Linked DNA regions of Homo sapiens: region 1 is linked to region 2. The links come from fine-mapping of genetic effects on gene expression. A gene starts in region 2. The other region holds a variant in brackets. All regions are shown on one strand. Distances are from middle to middle.

What was found. PIP is the estimated chance that this variant, and not a neighbour inherited with it, causes the effect.
Region 1: its variant is the best candidate, but not a certain one, in a credible set for the expression of RAB10 in whole blood (INTERVAL, PIP 0.51).

What each region holds. Positions count from the first base shown.
Region 1 is chr2:26,003,534-26,006,546 of GRCh38, forward strand. No RefSeq gene overlaps it. Among named protein-coding and RNA genes, the nearest start is that of KIF3C, 23 kb to the left of the region's middle. The variant A/G (reference allele first, on the strand shown) is at 1,475.
Region 2 is chr2:26,033,118-26,035,617 of GRCh38, forward strand. It overlaps RAB10 (RAB10, member RAS oncogene family), which reads left to right and starts at 967. Exons shown (of 6, transcript NM_016131.5): 1 at 967-1,618. The coding sequence starts at 1,492. It overlaps LOC124907743 (a long non-coding RNA gene), which reads right to left and starts at 632. Exons shown (of 2, transcript XR_007086249.1): 1 at 561-632. RefSeq lists a silencer at 633-862 and an enhancer at 1,173-1,222.

The DNA of each region.
Region 1 (3,013 bases), 29 kb before region 2:
CAGGGTCTCTCTTCTCCATCCCATTCAGCAGATCACCACCACTACATCATTTATTTTCTTTTTTATTTTTAAAAATTATAAACGACAACCAACCAACCCTACCTATGTATAAGGGTAAAAAAATAATAATAGGCCGGGCGCGGTGGCTCACCCCTGTAATCCCCGTGCTTTGGAAGGCCGAGGTATGCAGATTGCCTGAGGTCAGGAGTTCAAGACCAGTCTGGCTAACATGGTGAAACCCTGTCTCTACTAAAGTTGCAAAAATTAGCCAGGCGGGGTGGTGCATGCCTGTAATCCCAGCTACTCGGAAGGCTGAAGCAGGAGAATCGCTTGAACCTGGCAGGCGGAGGTTGCAGTGAGCCAAGATCGTGCCATTGCACTCCAGCCTGGGCAACAAGAGCACAACTCTGTCTCAAAAAAATATAAATGGCTGGGCGCGGTGGCTCGCGCCTGTAATCCCAGCGCTTTGGGAGGCCGAGGTGGGTGGATCACGAGGTCAAGAGATTGAGACTATCCTGGCCAACATGGTGAAACCCCGTCTCTATTACAGATACAAAAATTAGCCGGGCGTGGTGGCGGGTGCCTGTAGTCCCAGCTATTCAGGAGGCTGAAGCAGGAGAATCACTTGAACCCAGGAGGTGGAGGTTGCACTGAGCTGAGATTGCGCCACTGCACTCCAGCCTGGCGACAGAGTGAGACTCCGTCTCAATAAATAAGTAAATTAATTAATTTAATTAAATTAATAATAATAATAACAATAATAATAATAATAATAATATGAATGGTTGGGCGCAGTGGCTCATGCCTGTAATCCCAGGACTTTGGGAGGCTGAGGTGGACTAGCCTGGGCAACATGGCGAAACCTCATCTCTACCAAAAAATATATACATATACAAAAGTTAACTGGGTGTGGTTACAGCTGTAGTCCCATCTACTCAGGAGACTGAGGTGGGAGGATTGCTTGAGCCAGGGATATGGAGGTTCCAGTGAGCCAGGATCACATCATTGCGCTCCAGCCTGCGTGACAGAATGAAACTCTGTCTCAAAAAAAAAAAAAATGATGAATTACATCATGTATGTATTCAGAAGTACATACAAAACATATCAGCATAATTTAGAATGAATGTATGTGGGGAGCTAAAACCATCCCCCATGTTAAGAAACAGAACACAAGGCTGGGCGCAGTGGCTCACTCCTGTAATCCCAGCAGTTTGGGAGGCCAAGGCAGGTGGATCACAAGGTCAGGAGTTCAAGACCAGCCTGAGCAACATGGTGAACCCCCGTCTCTACTAAAAAAATACAAAAAATTAGCTGGGCGTGGTGGCACGTGCCTGTAGTCCCAGCTATTCAGGAGTCTGAGGCAGAAGAATCACTTGAACCTGGGAGGCAGTGAGTGACAGAGCAAGACTACGTCTCAAAAAAAAAGGGCTGGGCATGGTGGCTCACGCCTGTAATCCCAGAACTTTAGGAGGCT[A/G]AGGCGGGTGGATCATGAAGCCAGGAATTCGAGACCAGCCTCGCCAATATGGTGAAACCCCATCTCTACTAAAAGCACAAAAATCAGCCAAGCGTAGTAGCACGCGCCTGCAGTCCCAGCTACTTAGGAGACTGAGGCAGAAGAATCACTTGAACCCAGGAGGCAGAGGTTGCAATGAGCCGAGATCGTGCCACTGCACTCCAGCCTGGGTGACAGAGTGAGACTCTGTCTCAAAAACAAAAAAAAAGAAAGAAAAAAGAAACAGAAGTACTCATTATCTTCTTTAAATGTCTCATTTAAATTGTTCAAGCATGGCCAGGCGTGGTGACTCACACCTGTAATCCCAGCACTTTGGGAGGCCAAGGCAGGCAGGTCCCTTAAGCTCAGGAGTCTGAGACTTGCCTGGGCAACATGGCGAAACCCCATCTCTAAAAAAAAAAGAAAAAAAAAAAACCCACGAAGTGTTCAAGCACCTTTGGTGACTCCCTGTTTCCTATTCTAGCTTCCCTAGCCTGTTTTTCAGTCAGGCCCCATCACACTGGCCTTGGCGTTCTCCTCACTGCCTCTTCCACCCCACCTTCACTCTGGCCATTACACTTCATCTAAGAGCACAGGATCAGAAACATAAAATCTGTCTTCCAGGCCCCTCTTTGTCATTTATTAGCTGTCTGAATTCAAATAGATTGTTTAAGCTTTCTGAATTAGTCAGTACTCTTTTGGTAGCAAGTAACAGAAACCAAATTCAAACCGGCTGACGTAAATGAGGAGACGTAATGGCTTATCTCAGACAAATTTTAGGATAACTCAAGCTTCAGGCACAGCTGGATCTAAGGACCCGAACCATGTCACCAGGAAATGGTCTCTTGGCTGTTTTCCTCTGGGTTGGTTTTATTATCATCCCCCATTGTTTCAGCAAAGGTTCTTTTTTTTTTGGAGATGGAATCTTGCTCTGTCGCTTTGTTGCCCAGGTTGGAGTGCAGTGGCACGATCTCGGCTCACTGCAAGCTCTGCCTCCCGGGTTCATGCCATTCTCCTGCCTCAGCCTCCTGAGTAGCTGGGACTACAGGTGCCCGCCACCACGCCCAGCTAATTTTTTGTATTTTTAGTAGAGACAGGGTTTCATCGTATTAGCCAGGATGGTCTCAATCTCCCGATCCCCTGATCTGCCTGCCTCGGCCTCCCAAAGTGCTGGAATTACAGGCGTGAGCCATCGCACCCGGCCAGGTTCTTTTTTTGTTTTTTTGTTTTTTTTTGAGATAGAGTTTCATTCCTGTCTCCCAGGCTGGAGTACAATGGCGTGATCTCAGCTCACTGCAACCTCTGCCCCCCAGGTTCAAGCAATTCTCCTGCCTCAGCCTCCCAAGTAGCTGAGACTACAGGCGCCTGGACCACCATGCCTGGCTAATTTTTGTATTTTTAGTAGAGACGGGGGTTCACCATGTTAGCCAGGCTGGTCTCGAACTCCTGACCTCAGGTGATCCGCCCGCCTCGGCCTCCCAAAGTGCTGGGATTACAGCTGTGAGCCACCATGCCCAGCCT
Region 2 (2,500 bases):
AAAAAAAAGAAAGAAAAGAAAAAAAGAAAAAGAAAATGCGAGGAAGCAGGCTGTGTCGGACTGGGAGTAGGCTTGACCACCTTTCAATTTTCAACCCAGTGGTACGACGCTGGCGGCAGGCAGAGGCCCCACCTCCTCTGCAGAGCGCTCTCGGGTTCTCCCGGATTCCTGAAGGACGGCAAAGGCCTGAAGCAGGTTCTCTGAGCACCGCACAGAACCCTCCACTTCGCAGGGAGGTTCTTCCTGCGCCCAGGTGTTCCTCAACCTTCCTCTCCTCGCCCAGGAAGAGGTTGTGAGGATTACCTCATCCCAACCCGAGCGGCGTGGCCAGCTTTTCCATCTCAAACTCTTGCTCTTGAAGTCAATCCGGATGGAGCGCTCATGTTTCCCCGTCAGGGCTGGCCCTGGAGAGGGGGCACGCCGGGAGGCGTCTCGTTCTAGCAAAGAGGCTATTAAATGACCCAGGGCGCGGCTTTTTCTCGCGTTTACGAGCTCCACCTACACGGGAACACATGGCCACCCAAGCCCGTCGCTGCGCCAAGACCTCCAGCTCAACACACCCGACAAGCGCTGTGCAGAGAAACCGCAGCGCAGTCCAGCGGGAGACCCCGGGAGGGGAAGGAGGTGCTGGGCTCTGTAAGGGTGTCCCGGGGAGCGGGGAGCGGGAGGCGGGAGGCGGGGGTCGGAGGGGGGGCGCTGCGCCTGCGCAGTCGCTAGGTAGCGTCTCCCCCGGGGCGTGCTCGTAACGCCGCGCACCCTATCAGGCGGCCACAGGGAGCGCGCCCGCGGCCTCGCCCTTTCTCGCCCCTCCCTTCTCCCCTCTGGGTCCAGCCTCAGACTGAGGCTTGGAGACAGGAGCATTCCACTCGCCACTTCGGCGCGCCCCCATGCCCTCTTGTGCGCGTGCGCAGAGGCGGACCGCAAGGCTAGGGCGTGAGGGAAGGGCGGGCGTACGCCCTTGCGTGCGTCTCAGGCAGCGCGCACGCCGGCGTGAGAGGGCACGGGGAAAAGGTGGCTCTGGCCGGGGTGGCTCGGTTTCCTGGGGCTATGTAACTGAGCTCGTCGACTTAGGGGTCCTTCTTCGCTGCCCTCGCCGCGTGCTAGCAGGGAGTTTCCGCTCGGGAGAGAGACTGTCCTCACGCCCGCTGCGCCTCCTCGACGGCAGAGCAGGCTTGCTCGCCCGTGGGAGCGTCCCGGCCGAGAAGCCCTGAGGGGGGAGGGGAGGCCATTTTGTCCCGACCGACTCCCCGGAACCGGGCGGACGGGCTGGGAGAGGCTGCGGAGCCGCGGTCGCCGCCCTCGGAGGCACTGGACGCCGCCACTGTCGGGGCTTCCTCAAAGCTGTTCGTAGGTCGCCCGCGCCGTCTCGAGCCTTTTTCCCACGCTTCCCCGGTCCTCCGGCCTGAGAACGCCCGAGTGAGGAGTTGGCCGTAGTGAGAGGGACCGATCCCTTGGGGCCGCCGGCGGCGAGAGCCCGAGCCGCTCCTCCCAATGGCGAAGAAGACGTACGACCTGCTTTTCAAGCTGCTCCTGATCGGGGATTCCGGAGTGGGGAAGACCTGCGTCCTTTTTCGTTTTTCGGATGATGCCTTCAATACTACCTTTATTTCCACCATAGGTAAGACCTGTGGGAGGACGGTGTACGGTCTCGGTAGCTGCATACCGTTTATTTTACTCCAGACATCTTGCTTCCCGTAATATACGCCTTTGTTTCAGTGATTCCGATTCCAAACGACACATCCAAGTTACTGTTTGAATCGGCATCGAGCTTACTGGGGCGGGGTCTTCCCATGATTTCCATCCGGTCTTTTGCTTTCGAGTCTCCCACTATGCTCAGTGCCTTCTGTTACAAAATATGCATCATTTAACCATGTTCCAGAACCTTATTTCTTCAGGCGACTGGACTGGCTTTTTCCACATTTGCGTGGAATTAGTAGATGTGTGATATTTTTAAGGTATTTATTTCAGTGGTTGCGATTGAAGCAGTACTAGCTATTTGGGAAAGGCCTGAATTTATACTTTGGGGCAAAGAAAAGATTCCATATGGTGATAACTTAGAGTAAACTTGAGGGTTTCTGAGAAGAATAATTAAGGTAAATTAGAAGGGAAGAGTGAGTTGCCCTCATTCACTAATCCATTGATGTGTCAAACAATCGGAGGCTCTTCGCGCTTGGGGTGGGACTCTGGCATATTTGCCTCAGTGCTTTTCGAGACATCAACAGAAGCAGTAATCTGAGGGAGATGATCAGTTTCTGTCCTCAAACCCAACGGAGTGAAGTCAAGCTCTCTCTTCTATTTTATTTGACTCTAGTATTTACAGGAAAGTATTTTGCCAGTCATAGCCCTATGGACTTATAATGCACTTTCACCATGTTTCAGAATTACTTAGTGTGGAAGTAAGAGCTAAAGAGTGACCTTTTTAATCGAATTTCCCGTTTAGGAAAGGAAAAGGGAAGGCTCTAGGAAAGTCCCTTTTGAATCTGGTTAGAAAATTTAAGTG